Linked DNA regions of Homo sapiens: regions 1 and 3 are each linked to region 2. Evidence: fine-mapped expression QTL. A gene starts in region 2. Each other region holds a variant in brackets. All regions are shown on one strand. Distances are from middle to middle.

Evidence for each region. PIP is the estimated chance that this variant, and not a neighbour inherited with it, causes the effect.
Region 1: its variant is the best candidate, but not a certain one, in a credible set for the expression of FAM3C in whole blood (INTERVAL, PIP 0.76).
Region 3: its variant is the best candidate, but not a certain one, in a credible set for the expression of FAM3C in whole blood (INTERVAL, PIP 0.75).

The regions. Positions count from the first base shown.
Region 1 is chr7:121,315,953-121,320,199 of GRCh38, forward strand. No RefSeq gene overlaps it. Among named protein-coding and RNA genes, the nearest start is that of WNT16, 11 kb to the right of the region's middle. The variant T/C (reference allele first, on the strand shown) is at 2,550.
Region 2 is chr7:121,393,665-121,397,911 of GRCh38, forward strand. FAM3C (FAM3 metabolism regulating signaling molecule C) reads right to left here and starts at 2,644. Exons shown (of 10, transcript NM_014888.3): 1 at 2,498-2,644. RefSeq lists enhancers at 1,681-2,266, 2,267-2,851 and silencers at 2,079-2,908, 2,949-3,008.
Region 3 is chr7:121,356,934-121,361,180 of GRCh38, forward strand. FAM3C (FAM3 metabolism regulating signaling molecule C) reads right to left here. Exons shown (of 10, transcript NM_014888.3): 8 at 3,110-3,194. Among named protein-coding and RNA genes, the nearest start is that of WNT16, 30 kb to the left of the region's middle. The variant TG/T (reference allele first, on the strand shown) is at 1,649.

The DNA of each region.
Region 1 (4,247 bases), 78 kb before region 2:
AATTTCAAATCCGGTAAGTGGCCTCTTTTTACTCTCTTCTCCAACTTCCCTCACTATCCCTCAACCTCTTTCTCCTTTCAATCTTGGCGCTACACTTCAATCTCTCCCTTCTCTTAATTTCAATTCCTTCCATTTTCTGGTAGAGACAAAAGAGACACGTTTTATCTGTGGACCCAAAACTCCGGCACCGGTCACGGACTGGGAAGGCAGCCTTCTCTTGGTGTTTAATCATTGCAGGGACACCTCTCTGATTATACACCCACGTTTCAAGGGTGTCAGACCACGCAGGGACGCCTGCCTCAGTCCTTCACCCTTAGCGGCAAGTCCCGCTTTTCTGGGGAAGGGGCAAGTACCCCAACCCCTTCTCTCCTTGTCTCTACCCCTTCCCTGCTTTTCCGGGGACAGGGTAAGTACCCCAACCCCTTCTCTCCTCATCTCTACCCCTTCTCTGCTTTTCCGGGGACAGGGCAAGTACCCCAACCCCTTCTCTCCTTGTCTCTACCCCTTCTCTGCTTGTCTCTACCCCTTCCCTGCTTTTCCGGGGACAGGGCAAGTACCCCAACCCCTTCTCTCCTTGTCTCTACCCCTTCTCTGCTTGTCTCTACCCCTTCTCTGCTTTTCCGGGGACAGGGCAAGTACCCCAACCCCTTCTCTCCTTGTCTCTACCCCTTCTCTGCTTTTCCGGGGACAGGGTAAGTAGCCCAAGCCCTTCTCTCCTTGTCTCTACCCCCTTCTCTGCCTTTCCTGGGGCAGGGGCAAGTACCCCTCAACCCCTTCTCCTTCACCCTTAGCAGCAAGTCCCGCTTTTCTAGGGGACAAGAACCCCCAAACCCCTTCCCTCCGTGTCTCTACGCTCTCTTTTCTCTGGGTTTGCTTCCTTCAGTATGGGCAACCTTCCACCCTCCATTCCTCCTTCTTCTCCCTTAGCCTGTGTGCTCAAGAACTTAAAACCTCTTCAGCTTACACCTGACCTAAAACCTAAATGCCTTATTTTCTTCTGCAATGCCGCTTGACCCCAATACAAACTCGACAGTAGTTCCAAATAGCTGGAAAACGGCACTTTCAATTTTTCCATCCTACAAGATCTAAATAATTCTTGTCATAAAATGGGCAAATGGTCTGAGGTGCCTGACGTCCAGGCATTCTTTTACACATCAGTCCCTTCCTAGTCTCTGTGCCCAGTGCAACTCGTCCCAAATCTTCCTTCTTTCCCTCCCGCCTGTCCCCTCAGTCCCAACCCCAAGCATCGCTGAGTCTTTCTAATCTTCCTTTTCTACAGACCCATCTGACCTCTCCCCTCCTCTCCAGCCCAAGCTAGGTCCCAATTCTTCCTCAGCCTCCGCTCCTCCACCCTGTAATCTTTTGATCGCTTCCCCTCCTCACACCTGGTCTGGCTTACAGTTTCGTTCTGTGACTAGCCCTAGTCCACCTTCCCAGCAATTTATTCTTAAAAAGGTGGCTGGAGCCAAAGGTATAGTCAACATTAATGCTCCTTTTTCTTTATCCCAAATGAGATAGTGTTTAGGCTGTTTTTCATCAAATATAAAAACCCAGCCCAGTTCATTGCTCGTTTGGCAGCAACCCTGAGACTCTTTACAGCCCTAGACCCTAAAAGGTCAAAAGGCCGTCTTATTCTCAAAATACATTTTATTACCCAATCTGCTCCCGACATTAAATAAAACTCCAAAAATTAAATTCCGGCCCTCAAACCCCACAACAGGATTTAATTAACCTCGCCTTCAAGGTGTACAATAATAGAAAAAAGTTGCAATTCCTTGCCTCCACTGTGAGACAAACCCCAGCCACATCTCCAGCACACAAGAACTTCCAAACGCCTGAACCGCAGCAGCCAGGCGTTCCTCCAGAACCTCCTCCCCCAGGAGCTTGCTACAAGTGCCAGAAATCTATCTGACCACCAGGCCAAGGAATGCCTGCAGCCCAGGATTCCTCCTAAGCCGTGTCCCATCTTTGCGGGACCCCACTGGAAATCGGACTGTTCAACTCACCTGGCAGACACTCCCAGAGCCCCTGGAACTCTGGCCCAAGGCTTTCTGACCGACTCCTTCTCGGCTTAGTGGCTGAAGACTGATGCTGCCCGATTGCCTCGGAAGCCCCGTAGACCATCACGGACACCGAGCTTTGGGTAACTCTCACAGTGGAAGGTAAGTCCGTCCCCTTCTTAATCAATACGGAGGCTACCCACTCCACATTACCTTCTTTTCAAGGGCCTGTTTCCCTTGCCTCCATAACTGTTGTGGGTATTGATGGCCAGGCTTCTAAACCTCTTAAAACTCCCCAACTCTGGTGCCAACTTAGACAGTACTCTTTTAAGCACTCCTTTTTAGTTATCCCCACCTGCCCAGTTCCCTTATTAGGCTGAGACACTTTAACTAAATTATCTGCTTCCCTGACTATTCCTGGACTACAGCTATATCTCATTGCCGCCCTTCTTTCCAATCCAAAGCCTCCTTTGCGTCCTCCTCTTGTATCCCCCCACCTTAACCCACAAGTATAAGATACCTCTACTCCCTCCTTGGCGACCGATCATG[T/C]ACCCCTTACCATCTCATTAAAACCTAATCACCCTTACCCCACTCAACGCCAATATCCCATCCCGCAGCACGCTTTAAAAAGATTAAAGCCTGCTACAGCATGGCCTTTTAAAGCCTATAAACTCTCCTTACAATTCCCCCATTTTACCTGTCCTAAAACCAGACAAGCCTTACAAGTTAGTTCAGGATCTGTGCCTTATCAACCAAATTGTTTTGCCTAGCCACTCCATGGTGCCAAACCTATATACTCTCCTATCCTCAATACCTGCCTCTACAACCCATTATTCTGTTCTAGATCTCAAACATGCTTTCTTTACTATTCCTTTGCACCCTTAATCCCAGCCTCTCTTCGCTTTCACTTGGACTGACCCTGACACCCATCAAGCTCAGCAAATTACCTAGGCTGTACTGCCACAAAGCTTCACAGACAGCCCCCATTACTTCAATCAAGCCCAAATTTCTTCCTCATCTGTTACCTATCTCGACATAATTCTCATAAAAACACATGTGCTCTCCCTGCCAATTGGGTCCGACTGATCTCTCAAACTCAAGCACCTTCTACAAAACAACAACTCCTTTCCTTCCTAGGCATGGTTAGCATGGTCAGAATTCTTACACAAGAGCCAGGACCACACCCTGTAGCCTTTCTGTCCAAACAACTTGACCTTACTGTTTTAGCCTAGCCCTCATGTCTGCATGCAGTGGCTGCCACTGCTTTAATACTTTTAGAGGCCCTCAAAATCACAAACTATGCTCAACTCACTCTCTACAGTTCTCATAACTTCCAAAATCTATTTTCTTCCTCATACCTGACGCATATGCTTTCTGCTTCCCGGCTCCTTCAGGTATACTCACTCTTTGTTGAGTCTCCCACAATTACCGTTGTTCCTGGCCCAGACTTCAATCCGGCCTCTCACATTATTCCTGATACCACACCTGACCCCCATTACTGTATCTCTCTGATCCACCTGACATTCACCCCATTTCCCCAAATTTCCTTCTTTCCTGTTCCTCACCCTGATCACGCTTGATTTATTGATGGCGGTTCCACCAGGCCTAATCACCACACACCAGCAAAGGCAGGTTATGCTATAGTACAAGCCACTAACTCGCCTCTTAGAACCTCTCATTTCCTTTCCATTGTGGAAATCTATCCTCAAGGAAATAACTTCTCAGTGTTCCATCTGCTATTCTACTACTCCTCAGGGATTATTCAGGCCCCCCTCCCTTCCCTACACATCAAGCTCGAGGATTTGCCCCGCCCAGGACTGGCAAATTAGCTTTACTCAACATGCCCTGAGTCAGATAACTAAAATACCTCTTAGTCTAGGTAGACACTTTCACTGGATAGGTAGAGGCCTTTCCTATAGGGTCTGAGAAGGCCACCGCAGTCATTTCTTCCCTTCTGTCAGACATAATTCCTCAGTTTAGCCTTCCCACCTCAATACAGTCTGATAACAGGTGAGCCTTTATTAGTAAAATCAGCCAAGCAGTTTTTCAGGCTCTTAGTATTCAGTGAAACCTTTATATCCCTTATGGTCCTCCGTCTTCAAGAAAAGTAGAATGGACTAAAGGTCTTTTAAAAACACACCTCACCAAGCTCAGCCACCAACTTAAAAAGGACTGGACAATACTTTTACCACTTTCCCTTCTCAGAATTCAGGCCTGTCTTTGGAATGCTACAGGGTACAGCCCATT
Region 2 (4,247 bases):
ACACTTAATTTCCTCCTCTGAGAGGAAGTCAGCCGATTGTGTCTCAAAGAATTGCATTAAAAGAAAGTACAAAACCTTTTAAAAGTTCAAAGATTTTGGGAAATTACCTGGTTCAGTCTACTCAATCAGATTAAAAAGGACTGCATGATATTAAGTAATTTAGTCAATGCCACTCTTGAAATAACTAAATACAGAATCAATGCTTCAAATCCTGATCATCTGATCCCAAGAACAGAGACGCTTCTGGACTAAATTCAAGACAAACTTTTGCTATTATACCAAGGTCGCACAAAAATCTATCTAGCTCAGCGCTAACATAAAAATCTTTTGCTATTTGGGTCTTGCACCTTTCAGCTTTAAGAAATGGGCATAAAAATAAAAATAAAAAAGATTCCCTGCTTTAGAGAAAATAAAGTAGCTTTGTGAGTGCCCAGGCTGTCTTATTCATAGTATCCATGATATCTACAATTACTGGTACATGGTAGGCACTCCAGTATTTTTAAGAGTATAAAAATTTTTGAAAAATGAATCGTTCAAAACCTAAAATATATGGTGGAAAATATATGAGTCTTCTGATACCCCCTCAGGGAACATTACTTTTTGCCATTCCATAGCCTCTTAGCCTTTTGGCTGTCTTTTCCAATTTCCTTTTCCTTTTTAATGTATCTTCATAAATTATGAAAGATTAGTTGACAATGCTTAAGGCAGCAATCCACATTAAAAATCTGTAATTGTAATAAAACATCCATTAAGTTTATTTTTAAAGTCACTTTAAGCCAGTAGTGTCTTATTTTTACTCCCTTTTGAAACAGAAGCCCCTTACAATGAGGATTTTGAGGAACCTGTCCTGTGTCCCTCTTACAAAGTTCCCATTGGTAATTCAGAGAGGTCCTCAGGTTGAGAACTGCTGGACTGAACTCCTTTTATTGGCTCCAACTCTTCTTATTTCTTCCTATGAAGAAATGCTAGTCTTTATTGAGTTGAGAAAACATTACAAGAATCTGTGAAACAAAGCTTCTAATACCTGTATAAAACTGAAAACCTTGTGACTTTATTGGTAAACAGCCAAGAAACACAAGAGACTACTAGTAGCCTCTAGAAAGAGGTACAGGTCGATGAAGTGACCAAAACCGGATGCTGATTTGCTGATTCTGCCAATTTCTTGTTAAATGGCTTTCAGTAAGTGATTAACTTTTATTTTCTAAATTCAATAGAGATCTGCTGGTACTCTGTAAGATACTGTATGACTAATAGTAACGGTTCCCAAGACTTAAGAAAACGTAACTGCAAATTGGCCACAAGTCCAAGGGGTCGGGGCCTCTGCTATCAGCATTGACCTTTACTCTCGGGAGTTCATATTTCCATCTGTAAAACTAGAAAAGATAAAGGGACTTATTCACTGAGCTGTTGTGAGAATAAATGAGCACACGAAACCATTTGGCAGTGCCTAGTACACAGTAAGCAATCTAATATTATTTATGTCATTGTATCCATATATATATGGATACATACATATATATGGATACATGGATACATACATATATACGGATACATACATATATATGGATACATACATACATATATATGGATACATACATATATATGGATACATACATATATATGGATACATACATATATATGGATACATACATACATATATATATATGGATACATACACCTGGCTAATTTTTTTATTTTTTAGTAGAGACGAGGTTTCACCATGTTGGCCAAAAAGAAACAAAGGAAAAGTCCTATCAATTAGATAGCAGTTCTATATTACAGGCAATAATATTTTTTCTTAAAAAAAAAAAAGGTAGAGGATGATGGAAACCGCTCCTCCCACAAGTAAAACAGCTGGAGCTCTCAATCTCAAATTGCCAATCCGTCACTCACATATTCAGATCTAGGGCCACTAATCATCATCCGTGGTCCCGAGCTGTGAGAGCAGTAGCAAACAAATAGGAAGAAAAAGAAGAGACACCAAACATCAAAGGGCTGGATAGCTTGTAAAAAACCAAAAGTACCTCTAGTATAGGCGACACTAAAACTTTACAAGTGAGTCAAAACGGCCCCCTATGGAGTTGGAATGCAACACCCAACTCCGTCCCCACCTCTCGGAGCTCTCAGCCTACACGCTGCAGGGGCGCGAGCCACAGCCAACCTGGGGAAGATGCGACCCAGGTGCCCGCCCCAGGCCGGGGCGCCGAGTGCCAGCGCCAGGTGCAGACGCCGCCCCGTCTCCGCGGAGCCCGGGGATGCCCACGCCGGGGCGGCGGCCGGGAACCCCGGCCAGCGGCTCTCCGGGACCCCAGTCCCGCCTGCGCCCTCTCCAACGTCCGGACACGCCGTGACAACGCGGCCGGGCCCGGGGCCCGCCCCCGGCCGGTGACCGCAGTGCGCGGAGGCTGAAGTCGTAGGTGGGCGTCTGGCTTCCCCGGCCTCCTCCATCCCTCCCCGAACCTGAGCCCCGGCTCCGTCCGCCTCCCAGCCGTCTCACCGGCCTCCCGCCCGCCTCTCCGCCGCGCGCGCCCGCCTTCCGGCCTCCCAGCGCTCAGTCCTGCCGGAGGCCGACGGGAGCCGCCGCCTCCAGCTCGCGCCTCCGCTTCCTCTCGGACTCCTCCGGCTGCCCCTCACCCCGGCAAGTGGCCAGGAGAAAGCCAGCTCGCCGCTGGGCCTCCTCCCACGCTTCCCGGCCGCGACCAATGGGCCCCCGCCGCCGGGAAGCCGCGCCCGCCCCCTGGCGGTGGAGGACCAAGCGGGCGCCCGGGCCGGCCAGAGGGAAGGGCCGGAGAGCGGAGGGAGGGGTCTGCGGTCCCGCCCACCGCCCCCGGCCAGGCGCTGCACAATCTGAACTTGCCACGTGGGAGCTGCCGCCGCCGCAGCGGCCCTGCGCCGGGTGGCACTACGGGAGGGAGAAAAATGTGTCACCGCCGTCTCCCCACCGTTTACACGCACAAAATCCCAGCCTCAAGGGCAGAACATTTTAAATGACCCACCCATCCTAGAGATGCGCCAGTTAGGTCATCTTATATATCTTGAGATAGCTGAGATGGTCAGATCAACCAAGGACCTTGGGTTATTTGCCGTTTGACTTCTTGAACCCTAGGAAACTGATTCTGAAAATCCTACTGTCCAGCGTCATTAGAATTCTGATCACCTTTAATGCACCACCCAAGAAGAACAGTAGTCCTTGCATTTTCCAAGTCACGTTTATTTTTTAAATTATAAGATACACAATCGTTAGAAATATTTTTTCTCAGGAGATTTCCTACAATTGTGTTGATAATTGGGAAGTTAATCCAAATCTTACTACATAAGACCTTAGAATGCAAAATTATTTCATAATTCAGATCCATATTCTAAAATAATGAATAACTGTTACCTAGTATTTGACAGAATATTGGGATCATCAGTGGTTGCAGAAATTAAATTGCATTTAAAAATAGGGTTTGACTATAGTGTGTTAATATAGAATTAATAATCTACCAAATTTTAGCTTTCCTCCAAAAATATAAAACACACAAACTAATAGTAACTATGAATTCTGGAGTTTGTGATCCGTGATCAGGGGAGAAAGCATGAAATGAATTCTCATTGTCTTCCATGTGCCAATATTATGCTATTTGTGTATTACTTAAATCAAAAAACTAAGACTCCAAAACTGAGTTTAAATATCTTGCTCAAAAATACAAGATAGTAAGTTATGAAGCTGGAATTCCGGCCTAGCTTCATGTAGCTCCAAATAAACAAAAAGGCACTTTGCTTATTATAGTACCAAAAAATCATAACACTTACTGTACACATGCCTCTCCTAGACTGCTATGTCTCACTGAAAGAGTTTATGAAGCCTCTTGAGTAGGGAGGTCACGGTGTATTTCTGAAAGAGCAATCTGCTCTGTAACCGAGCCAACCAGATTGGAAATTACATGTGACATATTCTTATAGCACCACACCTGAAACAATTCCTGTGCATAAAGTTTAATGTGTTAGTAGCCTATTCTCCACTGACCATAAGATATAGCTTAGAACCCTTTGGTAGGTAATGAAATTAATAACAATGGGTCACAACCAACATTTTGTTGCTGTTGATTCACTGAAAAATAGAAAAAAAAAACAGTTCAAAGCATAAATTCAGGATAAGTATTCTTCATGAAACATTTGTACAGCATCATGTGTGGGTGAGTGTCTGTGTGTCTATGTCCTGGATACAGTAGAAATTATATTTCTTAATATGGGTTTCAATTTTT
Region 3 (4,247 bases), 37 kb before region 2:
TTAAATGGGCTTCACAGAATCAAGAAACACCATGATTAACAAAGGAAAAGATGTTTCTTTAGGGCAGAACTTCAGAGCCTTTCATTGTGAATCCCGAAAAGGGGCAAAATATAAGGTACCATCCTCAAACTTCTTTGACCATTATATGTACTTGTAAAGGACAGGGGTTCTACCAAACACACTCTGGGAAATAATGTGATGGAGATCAGTCCTAGTCAATCTGCTGAAGTTCATAGCACTGCAAAGCAGGCTCATCATGATTAAGAGAAACTAGGATCAGAGACGACGAGAGAGAGAGAGTGAGTGAGTCAGCTGGGTCCTGCTTTCTCTGGTTAACATGCCACCCAACTTTCTCTCTTGGAAAGAGCAGGGACATTCAGTGTACGCACTTAACTTTCTTGAGTATAAGTGGAAGAAAACGAGGTAAAATTCAATGGCCTTAAATAAGGAAAAGCCATAATACATCAGCAGCAGTAAGCAGAATTTCTATTCATATATAAGAGAGGGTATATAACACAACTGGTAAATCACTGCAAATGTGCCACAATTAGACACCTGCCAAGATAAAAGGGTTATATATATATTAGATGTAGATTGCCTTTCTTAAGGATGTTGTCCATTTCAGTATAAAAGATATGATGCTTACAATTTCTTTTACTGGTATTTAGGAAAAGGAAATATTTGAAATATAAATTCGTGTGCCCCAAACTAATACAACTCAATTCATTTAAATTCACAGATGAATCATATATTGACCAAGTGACCAAACGTAAAGAAATTAAAGTTTAGATTTTTCCTTTTGCCCTAGAGGTTGAACTCTCTTCCAAAGCTGCTTTTGGTGCATTTAATGGGCACCAAAAAATAGCAGTTGAAGAGTAAACATCATTCCTCCCCTAGTTCTTAGTTGTGGCTATAATTTATTATTAGCATATTAGCAGGTTAAGGGGAGCAATTTTGATTCCCATCAGGTATAACAAAATAATCTGGTGAAAAACGGAGGTCATGTTTGTCAAGTCAGAAAAGTGGGGCCTTTTCTTTTTAATGTTAAAACTTCAAATTTTACACGTAATAGCCTATTCTCTCAGCAAAAGCAAATAGCAAGTTACCTGTTTTTTGATGAGAGCCTAATTACATCCTGTTTCATTCTATTTAGGTAGATGAAAATGCTTGAATAGGCGAGTTTTATGTTAACCTTCAATTTATGGATTTAATATATTCTTAGTTGAACCAGATAAAACGCACAATGTCAATGAAATTACTTCAGCTTACAACCATTTATAAAGTATCACTGTTTTCATGTAAATCTGTGATAATGTAGCTATAAAATAATACATTTATAAAAATCAATACATAAAAATACAAATTTCTGTATAAATCTTGTAGTATTAAGGCTCTGTCAATTAAAATCTATAAAATCTATAAATCTTGTAGTATTAAAGCTCTGTCAATTAAAATCTATAAAGGATGTTTTTTATCCTTGATAAGTCATCTGAAGAAAAGTCAGAGAAAAAATTATTTTTTTCTAGAAAGAAGAACATTAAAGGGGATTTAATCTCAACCAGAGAGGCATGAAGTACAATTACTTTTATAAAACAATTTTAAAATAATTGAAATAGTGTCTTTTTGGAACAGAGATAAACAGGTCAAG[TG/T]AATGGAACAGAACAGAAATTCCAGAGATAAAGCCAAATCTACATAAGAACATAGGCATTGTGTGTCATGGGGAAATTACAAATGGGTTTTTAAAAATACATGACAACAGTGAAATCACTGGAAGAGAAAATCTACTAAATATCTAACCTGGAGGTGGAAAAATACTTCTCAAGTATACAAGGAGAGTGATAGAAAAATACATAGACTATATAGGCATTAGTCTAAAATTCTAAAATTCAAAAAGCACCCTACACTAACAAAATTAAAAGCAAATAATGTACAATAAATACATTTCTTTTTACATTAGAAATGGTTAATATCCTTAAAACGTGAAGGGGTCTTACAAGTCAAGATAGGCCAACTCGAATGGTCAAAAGACAATTTACATAAAAAGGCAAAAGAAAAAAAAACCACTTGTGAAAAAAATCCAATCTCAATAATAAAGGCATATTAAAATAAGATACCTTTTCAAACTCTTAAAATTGAAACTTAAAAAAATTAACAATTGGTGCCATGGAACTTCTGAGAAAAATATAAAATTGGTAAAAAAATTTTTAAAATCCATTTTTAAAAACATGCACATCCTTTAATTAATCATTTCCACTTTAAAAAAAAGAAGTCTATCTTAAAGACATAGACATGGACTGTTCAAACATTTCTAAGATAGTCTATTGTGCTAAGTATGCAAATTGGAACTAGTCTGGGTCCAGCAATAGGCAACCCATTAAACAGGTTATAAATCATGACATTTTAAAAACCAGACTAGGCAGGCATAAACAATTTTTTATAAAGAATATTTAATAATAAGGGGAAATATTCACCACGTAAGTGAAGAGATATGCTATAAATACTAGCATTCTAAATATTTAATGCCAAAAAATGTGTCTTAAGTCATCTGGAATAGAAACTAAAATATCATCAATGTTTACACTGGGTAGTGAGATGGACTGGAACTTGGTCTCTTTGCGCTTTTCTATAATTTTCCAAATTTTTACAACATATACTATTTTAAGAAAAAGTTATAAAACTACTATATATTAAAATTATTTAAAATATAGCACACCTGTATCTTTGACAATTAACTCCATTTCTTGAAATTTACCCTAATGACATAATAATAGGGAAACTTTAAAGGTGAGCCCATAACTGCTGATGAACCATAAAAATGCTATTGAAGAATATTAATGCTAGGAAAAACAATTTCAGAATGTTAAAAAACAAAACATAAAAGTATAAAAAATGTTACATATGATGTGATTCTAATTTCATGACAATATATGTGTGATAAACATTTACATATAAAACCAGGAAGGAGGCAAAGTAAAAACAAAAATTGTTAGTTGTGTTTACCTGGTAGTTTGATTACTTTGCTCTATGTTACAGATTTTTTTTTAATGAAAATGTATTGCTTTTATAATTACAAATTATAGTTCCAAAAAGTTCTGTAAAGTTTACATACTTGGTTGCTCCATCATCGTATGTTCCCATTAAAACTATTGTTCCATCTTGTATGGCCTTCAGAAACTCAATAAATGGTGCCACATCTGAAGAAAAAGAAAGGGTTTAGGGTTTTAAAAAATGACTGAATAAGCATCACGATAATCTCTGAAAGTAGTATTATAAAACATGAAGTATCTGTAAAGCAATAATTTCCAATGTAAAGTAATCCAAAAGACAGACAAATCTCATAAAGAGTTTAAAAACTGTTAAATTTGTCCCTTAACATAATCCCACTATCAACTTACAATTTCCCATTCCTGATTTATCCTGTGTCTTTCGTATTGATATTCCTGGGGCTAAGTGAAAAAAATCATAGCAAAGTAAAGCATGACTTACGAAGTAAGAAATTCAGAGATCTCTCAGATTTGAATAATTGGGATCCTGAAAACCTTATTCTGGGGTCCATGCATAAGCTTAAGGAGGCATGGGAGGTGTGTGGACTCCTTAAGTGTATGTAAAATTGTATGGGCTGAGCACAGTGACTCACATCTGTAATCCCAGCACCTTGGGAGGTCAGGGCTGGGGGATGGCTTGAGCCCAGGAGCTTGAAACCAGCCTGGGCAATATAGTGAGACCTCATCTCAACAAAAAAATTTAAAAATTAGCCGAGCTTGGTGGCACATGCCTGTAGTCCTAGCTACTCAGGAAGTTGAGGCAGGAGAACTGCTTTGAGGCCAGGAGGTGGAGGTTGCGGTGAGCTGAGATCACACCACTGCACTCTAGCCTGGTTGACACAGCAAGACCCTGTCTCAAAAACAAAACAAAAAAACAAAAACGAAACGAAAAAAAGCATAACAATGTTTGTATGGGTACTTTACTAGAAAGAGGATACACAGCTTTTCTCCGATTCTCAAAGATATCTGTAATTTTTAGAAAATCTAAAAATACATATACACACAGATTTAAAGGCTATTTTAGGTATATCATTTGCTATAAACTGGGAGAAGGAATATGTTAGGTGATCACTAAAAGCCAAACTAATTGTAGCAAATATTACAGTCATTACTCATTTGATCTACCAAATCAAAATCCACAAGGACTTCAAAATAAACCACTTCAATGACTATAAACTGTTGATGCCAGATACATAGGTCAGA